Homo sapiens: one gene and its partner. The protein of the gene in region 1 interacts with the protein of each later gene in a pairwise test. Each region holds a gene or a part of one and is shown on either strand. Other genes may lie near its edges. The genes, in order: ATP1A3 and NPFFR1.

Region 1 (9,542 bases):
CTGTCTCTTCTTCCCTCTCCCTGGCCCTGTCCAACCTTCCTACATATCTGTCTTTTTTTTTTTTTTTTTTTTGAGACGGAGTCTCGCTTAGTCGCCTAGGCTGGAGTGCAGTGGCATGATCTCAGCTCACTGCAAGCTCCGCCTCCCAGGTTCACGCCATTCTCCTGCCTCAGCCTCCCGAGTAGCTGGGACTACAGGCGCCCGCCACTACGCCCGGCTCATTTTTTTGTATTTTTAGTAGAGACAGGGTTTCACTGTGTTAGCCAGGATGGTCGCAATCTCCTGACCTCGTGATCCGCCCGTCTCGGCCTCCCAAAGTGCTGGGATTACAGGCGTGAGCCACCGTGCCCGGCCTCGTATCTGTCTTTTCTATGTCTCCACGTGTATCTCCATCTCTTTCTCCTCTGTCTGTCTCCCTTGATGTGTATCTCCAGGTCTGTTTTTGGCTCTTGGTCTTATTGCTTTGTTTCATCATCTCTCTGTCTCCTGTCTCTTTATCTCTCCATCTCTGTATCTCTGTCTTTGCAAGGCTGTTTCTCTCTCTTGATAGCTCTCTCTCTCTCTCTATCGCTCTGATCTCTTTATGTTGTCTCTGTCATTCTCTATCCTGATCCCAGTCTCTGGGTCTCTCTGCATGTGTCTTTCTATGATTTTGTCTCTCTCTGATCTCTGGTTCTTTGTCTCTCTGCCTTGCATGATGTCTGTCTCCATCTCTTGGCTGTGTCTCCCCAGGTCTGGCTGAGTTTCTGTCTCTCTGGGTTCTTATTTCCCTCTGAGTTGGCGTCTCAAGGATCAGTACTTTCTGTCTCTGTCTTTTTCCGTCTTTCGGTCTGTCTCTCTCTGTCATTGTGTCTCTATCTTCATCTCTCAAGCTGTCTCCTCTGGGATGCTCACATCTCTCCCTACCTGTCTCTTTTCCTGTTTCAACCTCTCTCTGTCTCTCTCTCTGTCTCTCTAATATCTCTCTCTGGGATCTGCCTATCTCTGTCTCTCTCCCACTCTCTCTCTCTGGGATCTCCTCTCTATCTCTGAATCTCTCTTTCTCTCTCACTATCACTAAGATCTCCTCTCTTTCTCTTTCTCTCTCTCTCTCTCCCTCTCTCTGTCTCTCTCAAATCTTCCGTCCCCCTCCTTCCCCATATATCTCTCATTCTCTTTCTCTCTCTCCCTCTCTCTGTCTCTCTCAAATCTTCCGTCCCCCTCCTTCCCCATATATCTCTCATTCTCTTTCTCTCTCTCCCTCTCTCTGTCTCTCTCAAATCTTCCGTCCCCCTCCTTCCCCATATATCTCTCATTCTCTTTCTCTCTCTTACTACCTCATCCTGGAATTTTCCTCTCTGTCTCTCTTTCTCCCACTGTCTCTCTCTGGGCTCTCCTCAATCTCTCTCTCTCTTTCTCTCTCTCTCTGTCCATATATATATATATATATATCTGTCTCTTTTTGTAGGATCTTCCTCTCTCTTTCGCTGTCTGTCTCTGGGATCTTCCTCTCTCTCTCTGTCTCTTTCTCTCACTTTCTCTCTGGGATCTTATTCTCTATTTCTGTCTCTCTGAGATCTCCTCTCTCTGTCTCTGGAATCTGCCTCTCTATCTCTGTCTATGTCTCTCTGTCTCTGTCTCTCTCACTGTCTCCCTCTGGTACCTTCCTCTATCTCTGTCTCTGCCTCTCTCTGGGATCTTCCATGTGTTGGGCCCATGGAGCGTCCTTAACAGAGGCTGGGCATGGCCAGGTTCCTGGAGGACAGAGCAGGAGAGTTAGAGGCAGAAGCCCTAGTCCTGGCTTGAACTGCGCATGGTGTGAGTCCCTGAAGTTCCAGTTTGGGAGCCTGGGCGGATGGGGAGGGCAGTGTCCGAGGCTGGTGGGAGGGGTGGGGCGAGGCTGGGTGCTGCAGGGGCCGCTGACAGGTCCCGCAGGCCCAGGGCCAAGCTGGGATCGGAGGCTCAGCGCGGCTCAGCGCTAATCTCCTCGTGACCTTGTAGAGGGCCTGAGCTGCCTGCTGTCTGCCCCCAGACCCAGAGGCTGAGTCGGAGGGTGGGGGTGTGCAGGGAGGGGCAGCAGCCTGGAGATCTGGGAGCCTCAAGAAGGGGTGCAGGGGGTGGGAGGGAGGCTTGGCCCCACGCCAGCCCTGCAGCAGCACTGCGTCTCAGATGCGGAGGCACAGAGGCTTGGGGGACGGGGAGACCATCTTTCCTACTGCCCTACAGTGCCGGGGTGGTCTCAGCTTTGCCCGATGGGGTAGACCCAGGATGGAGAGACATGGAGAGATGGAGAGATGTGGAGCTACAAAGGCCTGGGGTCAAGTCCTGTGCAGGAGGCCAGGAGAGGGGTGAGATGGGGGTCAGGAGAGAGAGAGGGAGAAAATCAGCTGCCCACCCAGAAACCTTAGTTGAAGGCTGGGAGCTGATGCTCGGGGCCCCATAAATGCTAAGGGCTGGGCCGGACTCTCAGATACTGAGAGAGGCTGGGGTCCTGGATCCCTGGGTCTGAGGGAGGAGGGGCAGGGGTCTGGACCCCTGGGTCTGAGGGAGGAAGGACTGGGAGCCTGGAATCCTGGGTCTGAGGGAGGAGGGGCCAGGGCCTGGACTCCTGGGTCTGAGGGAGGAGGGGCTGGGGCTGGACCCTTGGGTCTGAGGGAGGAGGGGCTGGGCCTGGACCCCTGGGTCTGAGGGAGGAGGGGCTGGGGCCTGGATTCCTGGTCTGAGGGAAGAGGGGCTGGGGCCTGGACTCCTGGATCTGAGGGAGGAGGGGCTGGGGCCTGGACTCCTGGATCTGAGGGAGGAGGGGCTGGGGCCTGGACTCCTGGTCTGAGGGAGGAGGGGCTGGGGCCTGGACTCCTGGTCTGAGGGAAGAGGGGCTGGGGCCTGGACTCCTGGATCTGAGGGAGGAGGGGCTGGGGCCTGGACTCCTGGTCTGAGGGAGGAGGGACCGGGACCCTGGGACTCCTGGCTCACCCTGGCCCTGGCCTTGGCTCCTGCTTGCCCTTGACACAGCCAGACCCCCTTGGGGAGCAGGCTCCCATCTGTTGGAGTGCACAGCTGAGGCTTTCCCAGTCAAGGCAGGAGGCCCAGATGGGCGCGCTGCGGGGTGGGAGCACCTCCAAGGGTGGGGACCATGCCTGTCTCGCTGTGGCCGCCTCTGCAGCTCCTTGCCATTTTCCATGCTGTCCGCCTCTCCCTGATCTGGTGCCAGCTCCCGCAGCCTCTGCGCCTGGGCCGGCCTCCCTTCCCCCTCGCAGGGGACCTGGCCCACATCTCTGACCATCCCTCCCTTGACCTCCCCCTTTGCCCTCTGCCTCCTCTTCCTGTCCCTCAGGCTGACTGTGGTTGCCGCTAGATAGGAAATATCTGTCCTTGTGTCTCTTCCTCTGAGCCTCAGTTTCTCATTTTCTCTCTCAATGTCTCTCCATGTGTCTCAGCCATGTCTCTCTGCTTGTCTCTGTCTCTTTGTCTCTATGTCCATGTCTCTTTCTCTGTCTCTTTCAGAGCATCTCTGTCTTTCCATGTGTCTCTGTCTTTCCTTCCCATGTCTAAGCTGCCTTCATTTCTCCTCTCGTCCCCACTCCGTTTCCTAAGACCACCTCCCTCTAACTTCCTTCTCTAGGGCTTTTAGCATCAGTCTTCTCCCAATCCATCCACAGCTTCCCTCCCTCCATCCCACTTACCTGACAGCCATCACTGACTACCCCTTTCTCCCTTCTCTCCCCTAGTCCTGCCCCAACCCAATCCTCCTTCCCAGCCCCCCGGCCCACCCTGCCCCACCCCACAGATCTGCAGCCCCATCCCCCACCTCCATCCCTGGGCCCATCAGCCTTTATCCGCCATCTTTCTCCCCAGCCCTCCTATTCTCCCTCCACTGGCCTCTCCCGCCCTCTTCATCCCACCTACCCCCACCCACCCCCTCCTCTCCTGATTCCCCCTCCCTTCAGCCCCGCCCCAGACACACAGGGAGGAATCCAGGGCTGCAGCAAGGGTCAGGTGGTCAGCCAGGGAGGGAGGCGGCATCTGCTGGAGAGACTCACAGACAGACAAGGACACACGGACACAGAGGCAAGGACACAGCCAGGCATGCACGCTCCCCACTACACAGTTGCACACGCACACCCTCAGCTGTGCACTCAGTCTCCCCACCGTGGCTCTCCTGTTCCTCTCCTCCTCCCAGCCTCCCATGCCTGCTCCCCTACATGAGGGGCTGCACACACACACACTGCAGCCCCAGGCTGCGACACTGCGGAGCCTGCACACACACACACACACACACACACACACACACACACACACACACACACTGCGGAGTCCCCCCATCCAGGCCTGGAAGGAGAAAGAGAGGTCATCTGGTGTCCATCCCACAACGTGGACCTATCCGCACCCTGCCAGGGAAGCAGGGGGGCCTCAATAACCCCAGACGCACTAACACGAGCTCTCACAGACACACCCAGACGCGATCGCAGACTTTCAGACACCACGGGGCCCACACACTCGCTGCCAGGGCCTGACAGAGCCAGCAGCTCTCATACGCACATGCAACTGTGCACATGCAACCGCACAAGGTCAGGCGGAGATGCTGAGGGCTGGCCCACAACCTCGCGGATCTCCGCACACAAAGCCATGCCAACGTGCGCCACAGACCCCCCGCCGCCCCCTGCGGCCCCACGACCACATGGATTGGCTGGGTCAGCCGGCTCCCCGGGTCTCGCAGGCCTGGCCCCGGAGCGCAGGGGTCCCGGTGCCCCCGCCCCCCGCGCACACCCAATGTCACCGGCCCCACAATGTCACACGGAAGCGGCGCCCAGCCGGCTCAGCACCTACCCCCATCTTGGCGGCTCCGCGGCGAGAGAGCCAGGCGGGCGGGGCGGGGACCTCGGGGCGGGCTCAGGCTCAGGCTTGGGCTGGGAGCCTCTGCAGCGCCCGCGCCTCGGTAGGTGCGCGCGTCCGTCCGTCCGTCCGTTGGTCCCACCGCACAGAGGCTGCGGCGGCCGCCGCCTCCGCCTCCTCATATGCCCGCGTCCGCGGGAGGGGGGCGGCGCTGGCCAATCAGGGGCGCCGCCGTGCTGACGGACGGCCCGCGGCCCCGCCCCTGGTACTGCAGCTGTCCTCCCCTTGGGCTCCGCAAAGTGGCGGCGCGGCCGCGAAGGGGGAGCGCTGCGGGGGTGGGGGGATTCCCAGAGACCTCCGCAATAGGGGACTTGGAGACCCCCTCAATATGGAGTAGGGCCTCCAAGAAGGGGCGCTCAGGGAAAGAAAACCCCGGAAATCCTCTCATTGTGGGGGTGTGCCATCACCGAGAAGGGTACGCTGGGGGAGGGGGGGCGGGTAGTGACACGGGGTGGGAGGGAAGCCCGGTGAATCACTGCAGTGTGGCACCAGGGACCCTGGAGACGGCGGGGGGTAGTGCTGTTCAGGGAGAGGGCCCTGCAGGAGGGGAAGTTGGAAGGGAACACAAGAGAGCAAGAAAGGCCTTGCAATTGAGGAGGGGTGCTGGCGGGAGGAGCCCTGAGATTCCCTCACTGTGGGTGCCCCCCCACTACGCCTGAGCTATCCAATGAGCCACAACCACACAGGGTACACGGGAGACACAACACGGTGGAGGATGGCCCCAGGAGGCCCAGAAAATGCCCAGCGTCACAGTTACACAGGACCATCACACTGATAGCCCAGATGCTGGGGACACGCACACACCACAGGGTTGCACTCATATTCCACCATAGGCCAGCATGTACCCTCACACACACAACACCACCCCACCACACACAGAGTCTCAAACATAGAGTGAAACACACATAGGGCACACACCTTACACACCCATCACACCACAAGAGACTCATAATCACAGCCACAAAGTGCTGTGCGGACTAACACCGACACTCAGAAAATCGCAGACTCACACATCACACACTCTACCACACCTGACCTCCCACCATCTCACATAGAAACCCACATCGTGCAACCCATAAACCAACACACACCTGCACTCAGCACCATCACACACGCACAGGCCTCACACTGCCTCCAGACACACTACATCAGCCTTTGTGGACATCGTTGCATGATCCCACGATGTCGCACACATCCTCACACACACTGCTCCCCAGTGTGTTTGGGCATGAGCAACGGCCCACAGTGCAAAGTTGCCAATGCTAACTGTGAATGACAGACAAAAAGGTGCACACACTTACACATAGCACAATAATTCAAACACAAGTCACGCGACACCCACACACCTCCCACACATACACACATCACGTTATTGCAGCACTATCGCAGACATCTTTGTTGCACCTCCAAACACACCCCAACGCCCTCACCCACATGACACACAGAGCTCGTCACAGTATATGTACACACACAGATGCACAGCCGGCACCCACACCCCAGGCCTGCTGCCGACACACAACACCCCATCAGCCACCCCACTGGAGCCCAAGAAGTTGAGGCCTCCCCACTCACTCCAACACCACTTTGTTCTATGAGGAACACCCCAGACTCTCCCTGGGGATGGTAGAAGGGGAAGAGAGAGAGAGAGAGACAGAGAGCATTTGACCTTGTAGTTTTCTCAGAATGTGGGTATCCTCTCCACCTATGGGATAGGAGATGTGGGGGACGCAGGCAAGGGACAGGGAGTGAGCTTGGTGTATGAGGGTGGGTGGGTGAAGGTCGAGGACCTGGTGCAGGGAAATGTGTGAAAGGCTGAAGGCCAGAGAGAGGCACAGAAACACAGAGATTCAGAGCCACAGCATATGGACAGAGACAAGGCCAGAGAGTGAATGGAGGCTTTCCCCAGTGCCCAGAGCCCCATCCCAATCCTGTCCTCTGACCCGTCCCCATCTTTCTCGCTGTCCTTTGTTGCCATGGTAACAGGGAGCTGCTTCTGCAGCAAAGGAGGTTGGGCCTGCAGACTGGGCTGTTGCCATGGAGACTGGGAAAGGGGGAGGAGCCACATCTTTTAACCCAGATGCCTCACCCCCAGACGCCCCCTCCCCAACTCTGCCCTCTTCCTAGGGGAGGGAGAGCCTATCAACATATCCTCCTTTCCTTCTCTTGACACCTTGGCCTAGAGGCATGGGCCTGGACCATGGAGAATGGGACTGGGGAGATGGGGAAGCCTGGGGAGGTGGGGGAGGCCTGGATTCCAGGAGATTCTAGGCTCTGTCTGCTCTTGCTCTCCAGCTGGGCCGGGGGAGGCCTTGAGCCCTTCCCATCCCACCTCAGACACAAGCTCACGTCCCCCCTCATGCACTCTCTCCTCAGGCACGAGCCTGATGAGACTGATGACTGTGCATCGTGCTCCTGGTGAGGCTCTGCAGAAGTAGGGGGGGCGGTGAGAAGGAAAGACCTGGGAAGGTCACAGGGATAAAGGGGAATAGGGGAGCTAGATGTGAGAGGCGGAAGGAGAGACACAGAGGGAGAAACAGGCAGCCCAGAACCAGAGAGAGGCGGATACAAACAGATTGAAAAAGACAGACAGAGATTGGCAGATGCAGAGATGAGAACACGGAGACAGAGCAACGGAAGAGTTCAGTGAAGGTGACAGAGACAGAGAGACGTAGACAGCCAGGCAGAGACAGGCTTGGTAAACCAGGGAGACTCAGAGATAAAGGCCAGGGGGAGACTGAGCAGAAACCTGGTAGGGGACCGGGGACTCAGAAATGGGGGAGACCCCAGAGGGAATTGGCCTCGAGGCATTGGGACAGAGAAGGGGGAGAAACCAGAAATGTCTGTAATCATGTTCTAGTCACCTCGACAAAGAGTCCGACCCAAGGGCAGAGACATTGATTGGAGTGTGTAAGAGACGTGGAGATAGAGATGCGAGACAACAGAGAGAGGCTGGTGCCTGCCCCCACACCTGTCCGAGGGGCACGCAACCAGGGTCTGAGACGCAGAAGGGGACGGGTGGCGACGGGGGGCGCTGTGTGCGGGGAGGGGTCTCCCAGGGTGTGGCCGGCCTGCCAGGACTGCGCTGGGCAGGCGGGCCCTGGAGGGAAGTCGGGCGCTCTGGGCTCAGGCTGGCCAACTGGGTGCTGAACGGACAGCTCCCAAGCCCCGGGCCGCCGCCCAGGAACGGGCGCAGCCTCGCTCTCTCTGGGACCTTTCCAGTCAGGCTTTCCTTTCCGTTCCAGTCCCCTCCAGGTTCCATTTAGTTTTTTATGGCTTCCTGTCTCTCACCCCAACTCCGGGTGTATCTTACCCTCCCGCTTCACCTCTGGTCTCAGCCCTCTATTCTTTCTCCAGTCTTCTCTCACCTCACCCAGCCTCTCTCCCTGTCTCGCCGGCTCTGTGTCCTCTAGCTCTCTCTCCCCATCCCCCTCCCGCCCACTCTGCCCCCTTCGTTGTCTCTCCCCATCTCTGTCTCTCGCCATCCCTCCATCTCTCCCTTTCTGCTCGGCCTCGTTTTGGCTCTTGCTGTGTGACCTTCACTCGTCCTTCCTCAGCTGCAGTTTCCACAGAAACCTCCGGCGGGGCAGGGAGGGCGGGGACAGAAGGCGGACCCACCTTTCTCCTGCGCCATCAGCCCTTCAGCCTCTCCCACCCCTGCCCGCCCACCCACCCCCCAGTCTACTGGGATTCCTCACTTCCTCTCTTGGGGGTTGGGGAGGTACATTTTCAACAGAAACACGGGATCACAGCCACAGACAGTTGAAGATGGCCTCGCAGATGCGTGCACACACGATCACAACGTCACTGAATCACCCCGGCCCAGGCACACACTCGCCACCCCAGGCACGGCCACACTCAACAGCTCACTGGCCCTCCCCTCCCCCAGCCCCATCTGTTTTCTGTCTTTCTGTGTCTCCGCTTCCGGTGTCTCCGCGTCTCCAGATCCCTGCATCTCTCCATCTGTCTCAGGGTCTCTGTCGCAGCCTCCCTCTGTCCTGAGAGAAGGTCAGTGGAGAGGGGCCAGCTGCTGGGACCCGGGCTGGCCTGCAGCCTGTAGGCAGGGCTGAGGGTGGAGAGAGCATGGAAGTAACCATCGAGGCTCACTCTGATTCTCAGCAGGTGCCCCGGGGACCCAAGCCTCCAAAGCCCTCACACCCCCAGGAAATGAGAGACGGTATCCCCAGTTCTGGGGTTTTGTTCTTTTTTTTATTCCAACAGGGGCTGCGATGTGGCAAGGGGAGGGATGGGGGCCCAACTGACCCCCTCCCTGGGGGAGGTCTCATAGAAATTCCGAGGTTTCTCCCCCCAAAAAAGAGAGGAAGAGAAGAGTGGAGGGGCACCAGGGGACACCCATCTGTCCAGAGGCCCTCCCCACCTCCAGAAGCGTGGGGGGCTGCGTCAAGTCTTGGGGAGCCTGAGCAGTCCCAGAATGGGGTCCTCTCCGCTGACTGCTTTCCGCTTCCCAGAGCCGCCCCCGAAGTCCCCAGCCCCTGGAGTCCTCGGTTCCTGCGCCCTTCTCGCCCGCGGCACCCTCTCGCGAGTCCACTGGGGGGCGCAGGCGGGCTCCAGAGCCAGGCCTCGGACTTCGCGGGGAACCAAAGGCAAAATCGCGGCGTCCGGGGCGCCGGCGCACAAGTCCTGTCCCGCGCCCGCTGCGGGAGCGGAGACTG
Region 2 (9,769 bases), on another chromosome or scaffold:
TGTCATCTACTGATGCCAGAAAATAGAAACCTGAAGAATGTCCAGTCAATCTTACTTGTTTAATGGAGGGGAAAGCTTGCCCAGTGGGGGTCTTATGGTCACATGGCTGTTTGGAGTCAGAGCCTGCCCTGGAACATAGGTCTAGAGCTGACTCTCAGTCAAGTGTCCTTTCCACTTCGCTACACTGTGTCCTGCCCTCCTGCCAACCCAGTTTTTGGCCTGATAGCCTGACCTTTTACCTCTCCCACAGCCTGACTCAGGCCTTGTTATCTCAACCTATATGACTTTGACCTACTGGCTTCATACTTCACATACTCAAGAAAGCTCCAGAGAATAGTGGCTTATGTCAGCACTTTGGGAGGCTGAGGAGGGTGGATCACTTGAGGACAGGAGTTCGAGACCAGCCTGGCCAACATGGTGAAACCCTTCTCTACTAAAAAGACAAAAATTAGCCATGCATGGTGGTGCGCACCTGCAATCCCAGCTACTCCGGGGACTGAGGCACGAGAATGGCTTGAACCCGGGAGGCAGAGGTTGCAGTCAGCCAAGATCGCCATGGCACTCCAGCCTGGGTGACAGAGCAAGACTCTGTCTCCCCCCTCAAAAAAAAAAAAGAAAGAAAGAAAGAAAAAGAAATCTCCAGAGAATAAATAATTCTTAAAGCCTGTAGTGCTGGCTATGAATGCAATAGCAGTAAATGGGTGGAGGAGAATCTTGGGGTAATCTGGGCAGGCTTCCTGGATGAGGTGGGACTTGAAGAATACTGCAAACACCACTGGGAGAAGTTGTACACTCTCATTTCCTTCAACAATGATAACAAAACAAAGGTCGATGAAGGGAAGGGACTTCTCCTGATCACCCAGCTAGTTAGTGGCCTTGTGGAGAGTAGAACCCACTTCATTACTCCAGCTGCCTACTTCACTGAGTTACAAAAAACTGGGCTTGAGGTGGAGAGAGGATGTGAACACTAGATTCCACAAAGGGCAGGGTTAAGATATGCCTGTGCTGGGGAGAGAACAAGGAGGAGGGGATGGGTGTGCAGAAGAAACAACATACTATTAGCAACTGATATTTGGACTCTATGCCAAGAACTGTGCATAAGCTTTTACAAGCAGGAGCTCACTGAAGCCTCCCAACCATCCTGTAGGGTAGCTACCATTTTACAGATGAGACTACAAGGGCTCAGAGTAGTTAGGTGACCCACCCAACATGATACACCAAGGCAGGAGTGAGCAAATCTCCAGCTGATCTGCCTGCCCACCTTTCCCTGGGGTGAAGCACCCAGAGGGTGCCCTTCCCCTGCTAACAATGCTGTGGGGGAGGAGCACTCATGTAGTGCAATATGGAGGCCTCCTGGGTTCAGTGCTTTATTGATTGCAAGCCTCCTTCTCCCTGGCTCTGCTCCATACCTTTGGCCACATGATAGATTTATACTTACCAGGGAATCTGATGGAATATGAGGCTGAGAGACGAGAAGCGGTGAACGTGGGGATTGAGTACAGCCTGGGCTGCCGGGAACCAGCAAGGAGCCAGTGGGGACAGAATAAGGAGCAGGGAGAAACCCTTCCTCCCCAGCCATACCGTGACCCACCCATAAGCTGGCCCCCTTAGCTCTGGCTCACCTGGCTCAGACTTAGAGGTGGCAGGATTCCTGCTGCTCAGGAAATAAGGACTGCTCTTGAGCTCCTCACAGGCCCCAGGAATCCCAACAAAAGCCAACCAAGGCTACCTTCAGGCCTTCCAGAAGGGGGTGGTAGTGTCCTCATCAGGTTCCCCAAGTTTAGGGAGAGGGCAGCTGGGCCCAGGGCCCTTCTCCTTGTGGCTCAGGATTTAGCCCCACTTACCATGGTGCAGCCCCAGCCTTCCAGCCAACCCAGCATTAGAGGCAGTGGCTCCTCTTAATGCCAGGCCCTAGTTGGCTCAGGCATAATCCAGCCAGGAAACCTCTCACCTTTCCACAGCAATGGCCACCAGTGTGAAAACGGAAGCCGACACAGACATGCCCTGCACCAAGCCGCTCATCTTGCATGTGGCATTGTCGAAGGGCCACCCTGCAATGACAGAGGCCCCCACAGAGTGAGAGATGCCCACGCATCAAGAGCCAGAGACTGAAAGCCCTCCAAGCCAGGTCCCCTCTGAGCTTGGATCTTTCCTCCATGACCTGCTAGGTGTTATCTGGTCTCTGCTTGCAGACTTTCAGAAATGAGGAACCAACCAGCCCATAAAACCATGGACAGTTCTCACTACAGTCATCCCCTCGTTTATACAGTGCATTGGTTCTAGGACCCCCAAGTATTCCAAAATCCACACATAATCAAGTCCTGCAGTCAGCCTTGCAGAACCTGTGTATAGAAAAAGGCAGCCCTCTGTATGTACATGGTGATATGGTTTGGCTGTATCCCCACCCAAATCTCATCTTGAATTGTAGCTCCCATAATCCCCACGAGTCATGGGAAGGACCCATGGGAGGTAACTGAATCGTGGGAGTGGTTTCCTCCATGCTATTCTTGTGATGGTGAGTAAGTTCTCATCACGAGATCTGATGGTTTTATATGGGGCTTCTCCCTTCACTCCGTTCTCATTCTTCTCTCTCCTGCTGACTTGTGAAGAAGGATGTGCTTCCCCTTCCACCATGATTGTAAGTTTCCTGAGGCCTTCCCATCCCTGCAGAACTGTGAGTCAAACCTCTTTCCTCTATAAATTACCCAGTCTCAAGTATGTCCTTATAGCAGCATGAGAATGGCCTAATATACACGGGTTTTGCTGTATTTTTAATCTGCATTTAGTTGAAAAAAACCCTCATATAAATGGACCCATGCAGTTCAAACCCATGTTGTTCAAGGGTCAACAGTATTAGTGAGATTTTCTTTATGTTGACCAGTGATTTCTTTCCATGAGCTTTAGACCGTCCAGCCCTGCCTGGCTCTCTGCTCCCATAGCCCTGTCTTGGGTTCTAGGCCAGTGGTTCTCGACACTGGCTGCTCACGAGAATCATCTGGAGAGCTTTGCAAAGAACAAATGCTCAGACCCATGCCAGGCCAGTTACAATCAGAATCTCTAGTGACAGGACCCAGACATCAGTTGTTTTGTTTGTTTTGTTTTGTTTTGTTTGAGATAGGGTCTCGCTCTGTCACTGAGGCTGGAGTACAATGGTGTGATCATGGCTCACTGCAGCCTCAACTTCCTGGCTCAAACCATTCTCCTGCCTCAGCCTCCTGAGCAGCTGGAACCACAGGCATGTGGTTTGCAAAAAGCAAAGTATAAAGACTATCTGTACTATATTACCCTTCATGTGAGAAAAAAGAGATTAAGAAAATATATGGTTATTTTCTCATTGTACCAAAGAAATACAGAAAAGATAAATCAGAATAATGAGATTAGCTATCCATACAGAGAGAAGATAAGAACTGGGTAGAAATAATGGATGAATGGGATAGGTGAGATAATGAGAGTGATGCCTCTCTGAGTATATCTTTGTATGGTTCTGACTTTTTAGAATCATGGCAATGAATCACTTACTCAAGATAAATAATTAACATCTATCAGGATATGGTTGGGGAGGGGGGACCCAAAGTAAAATACAAACATTAACAAATAAGTCTAATTATATTACAAATGAATAATATTGTATTTAAATTGAATAATATTTACACTGAAGGGGTGAAGAAGGAACACACGAACTGGAGTAACTTTGCAAAACAGTATTTTGACTGTATACTATAACAGCAAAAAGAACTGTATACAAATTCTGTACTGTCATTACTAAACTTGTATATTCTTGACAAAACTGAATAAACTGGATTTAATTATGGGAAAATATCAGGCAAACCCAAATCACAGAAGTATGTTAGCAATAATGAAACTACCTTATGTGTATACTAAGATTGAACAAATAAGTAAATATGTTGTAGATAAATACAGCTAGATTTCTCACTGTCTGAAAATGAAGTTACCATTAAGGAAGAGGGTCAAGTTAAAATGAATCTGTGACAGTGGGTTAGAATCAGAGGTATCAGTCTGAACTCATGTTAATACACATACAGATGGACAGATATAGAAATAAAGATATGTGTGTTAAATATTTCTGTTAGTATACGTATATTTCCTAGCTCTGTCCCTTGAGAGCACCTAGAAGAAATGACACCCCAATACCCATGAGCACACCTAGAACCCAGATCTTGGCTTCTAAATACTATTCTCAGCCAGGTGTAGTAATCCCAGCACTTTGGGAGGAAGAAGCAGGAGGATCGCTTGAGCCCAGGAATTCAAGACCAGCCTGGGTAATATAGTGAGACTCTGACTCTACAAAAACAAAAATTAAAAATAAAATTAGCCATACATGGTGGCGCATTTCTGTAGTCCCAGCTACTGGGGAGGCTGAGGTGGGAAGATCTCTTGAGGCCAGGAGTTTGAGGTCACAGTGAGCTATGATCTCACCACCGCACTCCAGCCTTGGTGACAGAGCAAGACCGTGTCTTTTTAAAAAGCAACAACAACAACAACAAAAAAGCCCCTGTGGAACTATACACTTAAAAAGGCAGATTTTAATGTATGTTAAATTATATATTAACAAAAATATTTAAATGTAAAACATGCACACATTCACAGCATATTTTCTTTTTTCACCCAGGCTGGAGTGCAGTGGCGTGATCTCGCTCATTGCAAGCTCTGCCTCCTGGGTTCACGCCATTCTCCTGCCTCACCCTCCCGAGTAGCTGGGACTACAGGCACCCACGACCACGCCCGGCTAATTTTTTGTATTTTTTAGTAGAGATGGGGTTTCACCATTTTAGCCAGGATGGTCTCGATCTCCTGACCTTGTCATCCACCCGCCTTGGCCTCCCAAAGTGCTGGGATTACAGGCATGAGCCACCGCGCCCGGCCATTCACAGCACATTTTCTGAGAATGCATACAAAAGACAGAAATATAACAGAATGGCTGCCTATGGGTCAGAGAAGAGATGTAGAGTGGAATAGGTATATAGAAGGAAACAAATAAACAAAAGAAGAGCTTTGCAACAGAGTGAAATCACATAGTGCCATGAACTGTAAACTGAATGAATGATTCAACCTTCTGTATGTGAGTTAAAAAAAAAACAAAACCAACACAAAACAAAACAAAAAGAAAGAAAGGAAGAAAAAGCTGGGCATGGTGCCTCACTCCTGTAATCCCAGCACTTTGGGAGGCTGAGGCGGGCAGATGGCTTGAACCCAGGAGTTTGAGACAAGCCTGGGTAACATGACAAAACTCCATCTCTACAAAAAATAGAAAAATTAGCCATTGGTGGTGGCACATGCCTGTAGTCCCAGGACCTGGGCCCAGGCAGGTTGAGACTGCAGTAAGCCATGATCGTGCACTGCGCTCCAGCCTGGATGACAGAGTGAGACTGTCTCAAAAAAAAGAGGCCGGTGTGGTGGTTCATGCCTGTAATCCCAGCACTTTGGGAGGCCGAGGCAGGCAGGTCACTTGAGATCAAGAGTTCAAAACCAGACTGGCTAACATGGTGAAACCCCATCTCTACTAAAAATACAAAAATTAGCTGGGTGTGGTGGCAGAAGCCTGTAATCCTAGCCACTCGGGAGGCTGAGGCAGGAGAATCACTTCAACCTGGGAGGCGGAGGTTGCAGTGAGCCGAGATCCCAGCACTGCATTCCAGCCCGGGTGACAGTGAGACTCCAAAAAAAAAAAAAAAAAAAAAAAAGAAAGAAAAAATAGTGAAGCTGTGTGAAGTTTTATTTAATTGCAGAAGATTCTATTAGAAACAACATAAATACAAATCAAAATAAATTGTAGTACATCCATACAATGGAATTCTAAGCAGTTGGTGAAAATAGTGAGAAACTCTTTTATTTATTAATATGGGATAACAACATGTAAGTTTATTTTAATGAATCTTTTTTACAGCATACATGGTATATTTTTAAGTGGGGTGTGGTGGGAAGTAAAAGTACGGGACTGGCTGTTTGGAACCTTAGCATGTCCTCAATTTGCTTGCACTCGCATAAAATAGTGTTTGAAAGAGACACAAGAAACTGGCAACACTGGTTGCCTCCCAGGAGGGAGAAGAGCTGGGAGGCCAGAGGACAGGGGCGGAAGGGAGATTTTTCACTGGAGAATTTTGGTAGTTTTTGACTATTGAATCATCTGAATGTTTTATGTATTCAAACAATATTTTAAATATGAGTGTATGAAAAAGATGGGGAGACGCCACCTTAACCAGCTAGTGACCTCATTATATCACTGTTGACTGGTATGCATGTATTTATGTGTATGCATGTGTGCATCTCTGCACATGTGTGCCTGAGTACACGTGTGTGTGTCTATGTGTTGGAAAGGAGAGGAATGCAGTTTATGTTCAGCATTGGCAAAGGAAGCTGGGACTCAGCAGTGGGTAACGGTTCCACCAGACAGAGCTGGTACTGTGGAGGGGAGCTGACTCTGCACTGGCTCCACATCCTGGGTCCTAGAACCTACAGAAACGTGGGCTGTGGCTCCCTCTGCCCCGAGTCAGTGAAGTCACTCTGAATAGGGCTGTCCAGGCTCTGGATCCTGAGGACCAGTGAGCTGCTGGGAGCTCTGAGCTCAGAATCTGCAGGCTCAGACCTCTAGGGGTCTCCATATCTCTGAAAACCAGTCCCTCACCTGGAGTCTCAGGTTGGTGGAAACTTGATTCTAAAACAAGAAAGGCCAGTCGCATGAGAGAGTAGAGAGTAGATGGCACTGTTCTGACATCTGCAGGATGCACCGGCAGGAATTTAGAGGTCAAGTGGTCCACTGAGTGGCCGGCCAGTCCCTGCTTAGACACTCCAAGGGACAGAGAGCTCATTACTTACAGGCAGGACTCTCTTCTGTGCCCTGCTCAATTTCCAGCTCAAATGAGTGGAGTTTTCGTTCCCGATTCAGAGGAAACCTGCCTCCCTTCCACTTCTCCCCACTGGCTCTAATTCTGCCCATGCGAGCTCCGTGAGAGAGTGGGACTGAATGGTATAATACAATAATTAGAAGTATGGGTGTGAGAATGTTGACCTTGACACCTATTAGCTGTGTAACTACAGACCAGTTTCTTAACCACTCCGAGCATGTTTCCTCTTCCATAAAATGGGGAGGACCATAAACTCTACTTCACTGGATTGTTGTGAGGATGAATTAAGATAATGCATGAGAAGTAACATCATGCCAGGCACAAAGAAAACAGGAAATTCATTAAATCTCTTATTTCTAGTCTAACTCTTCAGCCCCAAGACTGTCTTGAGAGTTCGAGACCACGGCATGGCCAAGAGGCCAGCCCAGCAATGATATCTGTCTTCTAAGCTTTGATTTCCAGCCTTATCTGAGAAGTTGAAGTGGGGGGTAGGGGACACTCCTGCTGCCAACTGCCCGCACTCACCAGTGATGAGGTTGTCCACAAGGGTGGTGGGCATGCAGAAGATGCCCACCAGCAGGTCACTGACAGCCAGGTTGAGGATGAACATGTTGGTGACAGTATGCATGTGCCGGTTCTTGAGCACGATGAAACAGACCAGGGTGTTGCCCACCATGCAGAGCAGGAAGATGAGCGCATAGGCCACAATGAACATGGCCGCCACAGGGGAGGTGTGCTGATAGTAGGAGGAGAAGGTGAGGTTTGTAGCCGGGGTGGCCTCAGTGTTAGTCCCATTCTGACTTAGGGGCCAACTGCTGTTGGGAGGCTGGGAGGGCTCCCCTAGGACCAAAGGAATATATTGGTCAGGACCTTAGGCAAAGAAGAGATTACCGATTTCTCACCACTAATGAGACCCTCTGTGTGCCAAACCTTAACCATGCCCTGGTCCCCCAAGCATGTCCCCAGCTCCAGTTGCAACTTGATGCACTGATCCAAGACTTTCAGCCTACAACCACTCAAACCCTGGTCTTGTACTTCATGCCCTGTCTTGCCCATAACTCATTCTCCAATGTTGGTTTTTCTTTATTAACTCCCCCATCCCATTTAGGTTCCAACTTTCTTGGCCCTCCTGTGTGCCCCAGAGGCTAACCTCTAAGTTCTGCATTGCCCTGGTTCCCTTGTCTTCTGGCTTCTAGCTGGGTTCAGCCAATGCCAGGCCCTGAAGGAGATGGGAGGGCAGGAGCAGAGAGAGAGGTCAGGGTGTTTGTCTTCTGATTCCCTTCCTGCCTGGCCCAATTCTTTCAGCAGCTGTTTTTCCCTATAGCCACAGCCTGCTCCTATTGGGTGAGTCCCCTTTCATGGCTCTAGCCCTCACCTGACTACAGTAACACTCTTCCCTCTCCTTGCACTCAATGGTAACAGCTTCCTGTGGTTGTGAGTCCCTGGGTGCTTCACCGTTTCTGGCTGGTTCTCTTAACCCTCTCTTCTTCCATTAAACTCTGTTCAGTTAAACCCTTTCTGAGTGCACCATTTGTTTTCTGCTGGGACCCAATTATTATACCCTCAAACTCTTTGATGTCGTTCCCCTTCATCTCCTCCATGGAACTTTAGTTGAGAAAGGCAAGAAGGCAGTAGAGAAAGGGAGAATGAAGGGGAACTGTGAACCAGGGCTAAGGAGAAGAGGCACATCACATTCAGCAGAACATCCAAAGCAGGGGCTCCTGCTCAACCTTTGCCTCCTCCCATCCCATGATCAGCTGTTCTGCCTGCATAGCATTTAACATAACACTTCCACATCTATTATTTTATTTAGCTCTCCGAGCCATCCCATGATGTAAGTCATTAGGTATTAGCCTCATTTGTTTTCTTTTGTATTTTTTTTAAACCCTCATTGAATTACCCTAAGGTGTTAGCTTCATTTGAAATGGAGGTCAGAAAGGTTCCATGACTTGCTCAAGGTCCTCCAATGATGCTGCAGCACAGCTGGCCCTGCTCTGTGTGTCTGTGAATTAGGACCAGGCTTTGGTGTGTGTTTCCCCAGGCTTGCTTCGAAGGGAAGGCTCAGTGTCCAACCACAGCTCTTCTGGGAAGTCATTAGTTGGGGTGACTCATGATGTTGTGTCATAAACTTTCCTCCTGAGGCCTATTCCAGGGGATGAAGAGTCCCTGTGGAATCTTTCTGTCACACCGAGAACTCAGCCACTGGCCTGGAGGCTCAATGGAGGCTGGGGGCCTGGAGGTTAGAGACCCTCAGAGGAGCAGGGCCAGCGAGCTGGCATCATCAGGGCTGCAGGGACCAGCAGGGGGCACTGCGGTGAGTGTTGGGATGGGGCAGAGGGACTGCGGCGGGAGGCGGACAACCTGCAAACTTCCTGTGCCCGATGAGAGATGATACTCCCAGGTTTAGGCCTTCCAAGGACTTCCAACTGTACTCAAACATCTTTATTTTAATATGGTAAATGTCAAACATGTAGAAGAGAGAATATTGTAATAAACATATACAAGAGTATAAAGTTTAATGAGCTGTTATTAGAGGGATCATATAAAGAACCCCCATGTATACATCATCTGCTTTCAACAGTTATCAACTCGAGGCCTGGAGTTGTTTCATCCATATCCCCACTTCTCTTTGGATTATTTTGAAGTAAATACCAGACATTACTTCCTTTCATCCATAAATGTTTCAGTTTGTACCTTTAAAAAATAAGGACTCAAAAAAACAACATGAAAAAATGTGGTTTCCATCATTATCAAACCTAACAAAATTAACAATTATGTAATTATATCATTAAATAGCCAGCATCCAGCAAAATTTCCTGATTGTTTCATAATTTTTTAAATAGTTGGTTTGTTTGAGTGTGGATCGGAGCAAGATTTCTGTTTCTATTACCTATTATTATGTTGTG

What was found.
Region 2: the proteins of ATP1A3 (region 1) and NPFFR1 interact in binary tests that used the Homo sapiens proteins (3 or more experiments, as listed by UniProt).

What each region holds. Positions count from the first base shown.
Region 1 is NC_000019.10:41,989,265-41,998,806, forward strand, and holds the start of ATP1A3 (sodium/potassium-transporting ATPase subunit alpha-3), read right to left. Parts: upstream 4,967-9,542; 5' UTR 4,813-4,966; coding exon 4,807-4,812; intron 4,204-4,806; exon of another isoform or gene 4,168-4,203; coding exon of another isoform or gene 4,129-4,167; intron 3,963-4,128; exon of another isoform or gene 3,944-3,962; intron 1-3,943. UniProt on the Homo sapiens protein: This is the catalytic component of the active enzyme, which catalyzes the hydrolysis of ATP coupled with the exchange of sodium and potassium ions across the plasma membrane.
Region 2 is NC_000010.11:70,258,689-70,268,457, forward strand, and holds part of NPFFR1 (neuropeptide FF receptor 1), read right to left. Parts: intron 7,704-9,769; coding exon 7,389-7,703; intron 2,052-7,388; coding exon 1,952-2,051; intron 1-1,951. UniProt on the Homo sapiens protein: Receptor for NPAF (A-18-F-amide) and NPFF (F-8-F-amide) neuropeptides, also known as morphine-modulating peptides. Can also be activated by a variety of naturally occurring or synthetic FMRF-amide like ligands.